Linked DNA regions of Homo sapiens: region 2 is linked to region 1. Evidence: fine-mapped expression QTL. Tissue or cell type: lung. Region 1 holds a variant in brackets; the other region holds the start of a gene. All regions are shown on one strand. Distances are from middle to middle.

Region 1 (5,261 bases):
TTTTATTCGCTTCTCAGACCTCTAAGAACTACCTAATGGTCAAAGTTTTTGGCAAACTGGAAAATTACTTTTTGTGATCTAAAAGATAAAATCTAGCTTAGATAACTTGAATAATTAATTTGATTCACGTATCTTACACAAAATATTTGATATATCTGAGGAATGGCTGGAGTTGCTATGAAATAAAATAATTTTAAGTTAACGTGTTAAATTATACAAGTTAACATTACCAGAATAATTCAAGAAAAGTGGAACTTAGTATGCTTTACATCTTGGAGATCACAATGATGAACAGGTACTGAACAGGAACACTGAATTATAGATGTTACCAAAAAAAATCATGTTTCTAACTAGAATTTAAAATCACACTGGGCCGGGCGCGGTGGCTGATGCCTGTAATCCCAGCACTTTGGGAGGCTGAGGCAGGCAGATCACAAGGTCAGGAGTTCAAGACCAACGTGGCCAACATGGTGAAACCCCATCTCTACTAAAAATACAAAAATTAGCCAGGCGTGATGGCCCACGCCTGTAGTCCCAGCTACTCAGGAGACCAAGGCAGGAGAATCGCTTGAACCCGGGCGGCAGAGGTTGTGGTGAGCTGAGATCGTACCACTGCACTCCAGCCTGGGCAACAGAGCAAGACTGTCTCAAACAACAACAACAAAAATCACACTGAAAAAAAAAGCTGCTTCAGCTAATCAGATTGTATTTTTTATTCTTAAAAACAAAATTATAATTTGCCTTTGAAAGTTTAAAAAACAGAAACAGGCAGAGTACAGTGACTCATGCCTGTAATTCCAGCACGGCAGGAGGCTCAGGCAGGCAGATCACTTGAGGTCAGGAGTTCGAGACCAGCCTGGTCAACATGGCAAAACCCCATCTCTACTGAAAAAAAAAAAATCAGCCGGGCATGGTGGTGCACTCCTGTAGTCCCAGCTACTCAGGAGGCTGAAGCAGGAGAATCACTTGAAACTGGGAGGGAGAGGTTGCAGTGAGCACTCAAGCCTGGGCAAGAGTAAGACTACGTCTCAAAAATAGAAAAAAACAGTATAGAACCTTTATACCCCCCCCCATCAACAAATATTAGTCTGTATTTTTTCATTTTGTTTAAGATATATTTTCTCATAGCTGAGTTTTTAATTGGTAGTTACTTTAGCTATGTATTCCAGATGATATATTTTGATTCTTTCAGCTATTCTTAAAAAATAAAACCAGTGATTTTACATTTGCTACAAAGTGAAGTTTTAAATGATAGCAAATATCAAGAATCAACATTTGTTAAACTACAAAACAAAAAGACCTGGAGGAAACTAGTAAAATGTTCTGCTTTAAGAAAGCCAATAGGGCCGGGCGTGGTGGCTCACGTCTGTAATCCAGCACTTTGGGAGGTTGAGGCGGGTGGATCACCTGAGGTCGGGAGTTCAAGACCAGCCTGACCAACATGGAGAAACCCCCATCTCTACTAAAAATACAAAATTAGCCGAGCGTGGTGATGCATGCCTGTAATCTCGGCTACTCAGGAGGCTGAGGCAGGAGAATCGCTTGAACCCGGGAGGCAGAGGTTGCGGTGAGCCGAGATTGCTCCATTGCACTCCAGCCTGGGCAACAAGAGTGAAACGCTGTCTCAAAAAAAAAAAAAAAAAAAAAAAAAAAGGCAATAAAGGGAAGTGATTGGGAAGAGTTTGGCCTCCAGAGCCAGATTGAGTTCAAAGTCCTGTTTCACCCACTTACCATGTGTCTTTGGTCTACTTAACCTCTCTGTACTGCAATTTCTTCACATTGAATAATATATAATAGTTAATAGTTTAAATGGTTAATCATGTAACATCAATTTAGAAGAACACTTGACAGGTAGTAAGTGCTTCATGTTCGTTACTATTTTTTTTAATCCAGTTTTAAAAAACTGGCTGGGCGCGGTGGCTCATGCCTGTAATCCAGGCACTTTGGGAGGCCGAGGTGGGTGGATTAACTGAGGTCGGGAGTTTGAGACCAGTCTGACCAACATGGAGAAACCCCGTCTTTACTAAAAATACAAAATTAGCCGGGCATGGTGGCGCATGCCTGTAATCCCAGCTACTCCAGAGGCTGAGGCAGGAGAATTGCTTGAACCCGGGAGGTAGAGATTGCGGTGAGCCGAGATTGCACCATTGCACTCCAGCCTGGGCAACAAGAGCAAAACTCCGTCTCAAAAAAAAAAAAAAAAAAAAAAAAACTAATTTAGCCAGGTGTGGTAGCTCACACCTATAATCCCAGCACTTTGAGAGGCTCAGATAGGAGAACTGCTTGAACCCAGGTGTTCAAGACCAACCTGGGCCACATAAAACATTAAAAAAATTAGCTGGGCATGGTACCACACGTGCCTGTAGTAACAGCTTCTTGGGAGGCTGAGGTGGGAGGACTGCCTGTGCCTGAGGAGGTGGAGGCTGCAGTGAGGCATGATGGCCCCACTACACTCCAGCCTGGGCTGCAGAGTGAGACCCGGTCTTAAAAAGCGAATTTACTCCACTTGAATGAGTTAATTTCTCTTAGGTTCTACCATAATGGTTCTTTTGTTTGTTTGTTTTTGTTTTTGAGACGGAGTCTCGCTCTGTGGCCCAGGCTGGAGTTCAGCGGCGCAGTCTCGGCTCACTGCAACCTCCACCTCATGGGTTCAAGTGATTCTCCTGCCTCAGCCTCCTGAGTGGCTGGGACTACAGGCGCCTGCCACCACACCCAGCTGATTTTTGTATTTTTAGTAGGAACAGGGTTTCACCGTGTTAGCCAGGATGGTCTCGATCTCCTGACGTTGTGATCTGCCTGCCTCGGCCTCCCAAAGTGCTGGGATTACAGGCGTGAGCCACCGTGCCCGGCCAACCATAATGGTTCTTAAACCAGAATGTCCAAGGATCAGTTGGTAAGTTTAAAGTACAGATTCCTGTGCCCTACCTGCACAGATTCTGATTCAACTCTCCTGGTGTTGGATCCAGTCATCTCTGTTTTAACAGGCATGCAACATGATTCTGATCCAAATGGTCTACAGAATATGTTTTGAGAAACACTGCTCTGGGTTTCTCTCAGCTAATAACATTAGGCATATGAATGAAGTTAATTACAAGAGTGAAATATGATGTGGCATTA[C/A]CATGGGACTACTTCTTGAGAATCTTGAAAACAGTAGGCCTCCCCTCACCCCACCCCAGAACCATAGCACAGTCCTAATCACATTTTGCATATGACAGTGGGTTCCTGGACTCCCTGAAGCCAGGAGTCCATAGACCTCAGTTACAAAACTTTATGCTAGCCTGGGTGTGGTGGCTCACGCCTGTAATCCCAGCACTTTGGGAGGCCGAGGAGGGCAGATCACGAAATCAGGAGATCAAGACCATCCTGGCCAACATGGTGAAACCCCACCTCTACTAAAAATACAGAAATTAGCTGGGCGTGGTGGTGCACTCCTGTAATCTCAGCTACTCAGGAGGTTGAGGCAGGAGAATCACTTGAACCCGGGAGGCAGAGGTTGCAGTGAGCCGAGATCGTGCCACTGCACTCCAGCCTGGCGACAGAGTGAGACTCCATCTGAAAAAATAAGAAAACTTAATGCTAGAAGGGCTGTACCTTTTACCCTTGTGCATTGTTTTATATGGCCTGTTTTAATACATATAATAGACAATTTTGCCATGGTGGGGTGAGGATTATTCAAATTAAGTAGATGGCAGAATTTAATTAGCACCTAAAATTTTTTCACATTTATTAAATGACCTCTTTTAGACATACTTATATTTCTATTCACACCACACTTGAACATACATAAAAAGGGAAATATAAATGTAAGCTAAATAAGTTATTCCTTAAGCTTCTTATTCAGTCCAGTTTTTTTGAATTGCTTTTATTCGGATACCTGATGGTCACAGATAGAAAAAAAGAATTTTGATGTGATCTTAAGAGGAAAGGGTCTTAAAAATAAGTGAGGCTGGGCGTAGTAGCTCACGCCTGTAAACTCAGAATTTTAGGAGGCCAAGGTGGGCAAATCACTTGAGCACATGAGTTCGAGACCAGCTTGGGCAACAGGGTGAAACTCCATCTCTACTAAAAATACAAAAATTAGCTGGGCATGGTGGTGTGCGCCTGTGGTCCCAGCTAGTGGTGAGGCTGAGGTGGGAGGATCACTTGAGCCTGGGAGGTCAAGGCTGCAGTGAGCCATGATTGTGCCACTACCTGGGTGACAGTGAGGCCATGTCTCAAAAAAATAAAAAATAAGTGAGAGGGACTGATAACTACTTAGGAATAGTACAAGGAACAAATAGTACAAAAAATAAATCTTTTATGCATTGTAAAAAGAGGAAAAAACGATGCTAAATTTGGGAAGAGGCATAAATTCATTACAATTAAAACAATTAACTGCTTAAATAGGGTACTATGAGACCTCAAAAATGGCATGTACCTTTCTACATGGGGAGAGCAGAAAAAGTATCACAGCTTTGTTTGAGTAGAGTTTGGGAGAGGAAGAACGGGTACCGCAATATGAGTAATGGCAAACATGTTAAAGCTTAGTCAAAGGCAACAAGGGGTAAGACAAGATAGGAGGATAATATTGGAAAGATAGGAAGGGGTTAGATCATGAAAGACCTTACTAGGTAGTTAATGCATTTAGATTGTATCCCACACATAAAGAAGTGAACCCAGGTTTTTAAGAAATGTTGTGGCATAATTAGGTGAACGTTCAGAAAAGTAAATTACTCATTCTAGCTGCTGTAGAGCAGGGCAACTGGAATAGATTAAAACCAGAGGCAGGGAAACCAATGAGGAGTCCTTTGCAATAATAACTGGCAAGAAAAGATGAAGCTTTAACGCAGAGGACAGGCCGGGCACAGTAACTCACGCCTGTAATCCCAGCACTTTGGGAGGCCATGGCAGGTGGATCATTTGAGGTCAGGAGTTCAAGACCAGCCTGACCCGTATGATGAAACCCCATCTCCATTAAAAATACAAAAATTAGCCGGACATGGTGGTGCACGCCTGTAATCCCAGCTACTCTGGAGGCTGAGGCAGGAGAATTGCTTTAACCCAGAAGGTGGAGGTTGCAGTGAGCCGAGATCACACTACTGCACTCCAGCCTGGGCAACAAGAGCAAAGCTCTGTCTCAAAAAAAAAAAAAGAAGGAGAAGAAGAACCAGAAAGAGAGAGCATGAGAATTACTGGATACATTCATAGAAATCTTCAGCAACATCATTATTATCATTATTATTATTTTGAGATGAAGTCTCTCTCTGTCACCCAGGCTGGAG
Region 2 (5,000 bases), 300 kb after region 1:
CCACTGCGTCCAGCCAGTTCCAAAGTTTAGAATTTCTTTTCTAAAAATCTTTTCTAAAAGTTTTAAATTCTGAAACATCTGGCTGCCAGGGTTTTAGATAAGAGATTGTGGACCAAAAATCAAGATGTTTTGAAAAGTGCTTTTCTCTGTTCTCTCCTTGTGTTACCCCCAGGTCATGTAGGAAAATGGGAAATTATGCTGGACTTAATGCCAAAAAAGCTAGATTCTTTGCTTCCCCCATTTACTTTGTTGTTGTTAGTTGAGACAGGATCTCACTGGAGTACAGTGGCATGATCTTGGCTCACTGCAGCCTTGACTCCCTGGCTTCGGTAATTCTCCCACCTCAGCCTCCCAAATAGTTGGGACTACAGGCGCCTGGCTAATTTTTCTATTTTTTGTAGAGACAAGAGTTTTGCCATGTTGCCCAGGCTAGTCTCAAACTCCTGGGCTCAAGCGATTCACCTGCCTCGGCCTCCCACATTTGTATTTTTCAAAGTATACTCTTAAGCTCAGATGAATTCAAGTTTTTGCAGCCAGAAACTGGTAGAACTGGTGTTTGAAATCTTTCATTTTCCAGTGCTTAAACTCTTCATCATTGTAAGATACTTCTTGTGTGGGTCTTTTTTGTGGAAACCACACTTGGAGATTTCTACTCCTTAACCCCAAGCCTCTTTATGACATCCATCCAGGACCAGCTCTGCTTTCCTGTTGAAGGTCTCAAGAGACTTGCCTTCCTCCTCTCGGTAGCTGCCAGTACTCTTACCATTTCATGAGTTTTCCCCCAAGCTTGGCTGTGAAATGTGATACCTATTAGCTTCCGCAGCACCTTTCTCCCAACTTCCTTGCTATACCTGATGACAACTCTTCAGGCCTCTTATATTCCTAGGATCTTGCTATTAATCACTATAGGGATAAGTAAAAGTAATATATACAAAATAATTGCATAACAGAATAATATAGGGCAGTTACATAGAATGATTCTTGCTGTTTAATCCTGGAAAATGTGATCCCCGAGGATTCACATTTTAATTTCTGCTCTTTATTTCTGAGGATGGAGTCACCGTTTTCCCCTTCTGGCTACACATTTAGATGCATTTCAGGTCTGATGATAGTTGCAATGTAAAAAAGAATAGCAAGGCCTTTGGTTTCTGTAGACAATTTGGACCAGATAACTTCCAGACTGGGTAATATCCGGTTTATTAGTGTTACTGGATGGGAAGTCTTGACTGAGTTGTCTGGGTTTTTGGCGTGTTGAACAAAGAATTGAACAAAACGTAGAAACAAAGCAACAAAAGAAGCAACGAAAGACAAAACAACAAAAGAACGAAGTAACAAAAGCACAAATTTATTGAAGCGAACCAAGTGCTTCAAGAGTCCCAATTGCAGTGTTCTTAAGGGTTACTAGGCTAAAAGAATTTGGTAAATCCCTAGGTGCCCTTTACAGTCGTCCAATTGGTTGCACCCTATGAAGGATTGGCCTGCGACCAATCAGAGGCTGAAATGGAGATGGCCGAGGACAATCAGAGGCGATGTGGAAACTTCTGTCTTGTAATCACAGGAGTGAAGGTGTGGCCTGTATGCTGCCTAGTCTTGCCTAGAAATTGCTGCACCTGCTGTTCTTTTGCTTATGCCTTAACCCTTGGTTACCCTAATTCCCTATTCTCTTGCCTCATTAGGTCTTTACCCTGACTAAAAATGCACTCATCTAGCTGGGACAAATCCTACACTGCATTTGTCCCATCTAGATGAGTATTCTAGCAGAGTACATGGCACATGAGTAGGCATTCAAAAATTCAACATACAGTACATTTTGTTACCTATGTGCCAGGTGTCGGGCAGGCTGAGTTAACAGCTGAACAGAAACCTACCTACCCAACGTGCTAACTTCTATACAGCATGGTCGTGCATCCAAATCAAATGGAAAGCGGTATGGGAGATCTGGAAAGGCCTCCTGTGGGTGGCATCTGACTACCTAAATTCCCATCCCAGTTTCACTTACTGACTTTGACACTTGGAACAAGCAGCCTCTCAGTGCCTGTTTTCCCACTGGCAGGTAAATGGGCTAATGACGGTATTTCTGGCACTAGACTTCGTTAATTAATGAAAAGCACATAGAAGAAAACAGCCTGGCTCTCTAAGTGGGCAGTGCGATTCCCAAGGACGGCACTTCGCCTGATAGTCTTCCTCTAGGCTGAGAAGCCAGAGTAAATCCATTTGATTTTCCTACCACACAGTGCCTTCTCCCCAGATGAGTTCAAAGCTTTAAGTCTATCCAGTTCTGTCCAGACGCGTCTGTTCATCTCCAACAGGCCCACTAGAGAGGCGGGTTTTCCAAAGCCTGGCACGGCCCACTGCAGGTGACGCCCTCTGCCCTCCAGCGCCCTCAGGCCTCTGGGGTCCACCCTTCCTCCCCACCCGACTCCGGAACCTCTTCCCGCGCCCTGCCCGGGCGCCTGGCTGCTTGGGGTAGAGGCCTTCCGCCACACGCGCGGCCCCGCCCCGGCCTTCACGTGACCTGGCGTGCGGAGCGCGCACGCGGGAACCCGCGCTGGAGGCGGGCGAGGGCCGAGGGGCAGCTAGGGAGCGCGGCTTGAGGAGGGCGGGGCCGCCCCGCAGGCCCGCCAGTGTCCTCAGCTGCCTCCGCGCGCCAAAGTCAAACCCCGACACCCGCCGGCGGGCCGGTGAGCTCACTAGCTGACCCGGCAGGTCAGGATCTGGCTTAGCGGCGCCGCGAGCTCCAGTGCGCGCACCCGTGGCCGCCTCCCAGCCCTCTTTGCCGGACGAGCTCTGGGCCGCCACAAGACTAAGGAATGGCCACCCCGCCCAAGAGAAGCTGCCCGTCTTTCTCAGCCAGCTCTGAGGGGACCCGCATCAAGAAAATCTCCATCGAAGGGAACATCGGTAAGGAGCCTCCGGAAATGTGGGACGCAAGGCTGGGGTGTCGCGGCAGTGGCTGAAGCTTCCCTTCGCCGCATCTCTCTGCAGCAACTCGGTGAGGGCTTTCCCTCCAGCCTGGCGGTGTGGACGCGGCCTCGGCTTCCTTTCCCACCCAGAGCATCCTTCCCTTACCTCCCGCTCCACGGGGTGACTGCGGTCCCCGGGGTCAGACTGGGCGCCAGGCCTGCGGTCTCTGTGAGGCGCGCTTTGAACCTCTGCTCCCTCTTTGTTGGGAACTCGCAAAGGGAAGCGGGGGAAGGGTATTAGATTTCTTGAGGTGTAACTTACATTAAATTCACCCTTTTTAGGTGTACTCTTCTATGAGGTTTGACAAACATTATGCCTTTTGCTATCACCATGATCGAGATACAGAACATTTTCATCACCTTAGAAAGTTCCTACCTGCTCCTTTGTATTCAGCCCCCTCCACCCTTCCTATTCCCTGGCACCCACTGATTTGATTTCTATCCCTGCAAGTGTTGCCTTTTCCAGAATGCCATATAAATGGAATCATAGGCTATATCGCCTTTTGTGTCTGGCGTCTTTCATTTAGCATAATGCTTTTGAAATTCATTCATGTTACTTGTGTCTGTAGTTTGTTTCTTTTTATTGCTGAGTAGTATTCCATTGCATGGATGTACCATCGTTTATCCATTTTCTAGTTGTGGACCTCAGGGTTGTTTACAGTTTTTTAGCTATATTATTAGCGAAGCATTGTTTTAGCTATATTATTAACGAAACTCGAAACATTCGAGTACAAGCAAAGAGGTCTTTAATGATCTTAATAGCATGGAGTTCCTCACCCCTTACTCCACATCCAAGTAAACATTGGATTATGATTCAAAGACCACTAACGTTTCTGTTAACTCAGATGGGGGGCAGACTAGGCCATGCCTGTCACTTTGCAAGATACACACCAACGTCCGATTCTTCTGTATCTCCAACCACAGGAAACCTACCCCTGAAACTTCCTGTTTTGATAGATTTAAAAAAAAATTTTTTTAGCTCCAGGTTGGGTGCTGGTCATTCATGCATACAGCAAATTTTTTAAAATTCTTACCACATTCAAAGCACTGTACCTTCTTGAAAAAGGCCAGGCAAGCAGATGCTTTAAGCATTCAAATGAATAGAAAAACTGCATTCTCAAAGAGGACTTCTTATTTCATTGCTCCAGAATTAAAGCACCAGTAGAAAGACCATATGATATAATTAGCAATGTAAGTTATTTGAGGGTGCATGTTTACTAGTATGGAATCTCTGACAGCTGCTTACTGAATAAAGAAGACCATATATAAAGACAGGAGAAAGTGGCTGAACAAAGCCATCTGAAAAGTAAATTTGAGGCAGGGCATGGAGGCTCATACTTGTAATCCCAGGATTTGGGGAGGCTTAGGCAAGAGGATCACTTGAGTCCAGGAGTTCCAGATCAGCCTGGGCAACATAGTGAGAACTCATCTCCACAAAAAAATTAAAAAATTAGTTGCATGTGTTGGTGTGCCTCCAGCTACTCAGGAGGCTGAGGCAGGAGGATTGCTTGAGCCCAAAGATCAAGGCCACAGTGAGCCATGATCACACTACTGCACTCTAGCCTGGGTGACAGAGCAAGACTCTGTTAAAAACACAGAAACAAAACAGTAAAGTTGAATGAATAACCCCTCGGATCAATACCACAATACATTCATCCCCTTTCCCTCTCTCCAATCCAGTTAGGTAGCATCATATTTAGAAATATTTCCTCAAAGCATCTTTAATCTTTTCAGCAGCTGAAATAATTTCCTAATATATCATCCCATCTCCAGTTTCTCTTAACTACTTCTGCAACGGTCTTTTTGTATGCAAATGTCATGTGTTATCCCCTGCTTAAAATTCTTCACTGATTTTGCCTTTACCTACACTGAAAGTAGTTGTGAACTGATAGCCTGCAATTGCACAATATTGGCCTGCACAGGTTGAAAAAAAATTTTACTGGCCAGTGGCTCAAGCTTGTAATCCCAGTGCTTTGGGAGGCTGAGGCAGGAGGATTGCTTGAGGCCAGGAGTTTGAGACTAGCATGGCAACATAGT

Which allele goes with the higher level. Positions count from the first base shown, and alleles are read on the strand shown. Sizes are in standard deviations (SD) of each study's normalised expression.
As copies of A replace C in region 1, the expression in lung of the gene that starts at base 2,624 in region 2 goes up (moderate effect, 0.59 SD a copy in GTEx).

What was found. PIP is the estimated chance that this variant, and not a neighbour inherited with it, causes the effect.
Region 2: DCK starts here. The variant in region 1 is fine-mapped to the expression of DCK in lung (GTEx, PIP 0.95).

The regions. Positions count from the first base shown.
Region 1 is chr4:70,693,119-70,698,379 of GRCh38, forward strand. No RefSeq gene overlaps it. Among named protein-coding and RNA genes, the nearest start is that of UTP3, 7.2 kb to the left of the region's middle. The variant C/A (reference allele first, on the strand shown) is at 3,118.
Region 2 is chr4:70,991,026-70,996,025 of GRCh38, forward strand. DCK (deoxycytidine kinase) reads left to right here and starts at 2,624. Exons shown (of 7, transcript NM_000788.3): 1 at 2,624-2,901. The coding sequence starts at 2,811. RefSeq lists a silencer at 2,360-2,699 and an enhancer at 2,870-3,049.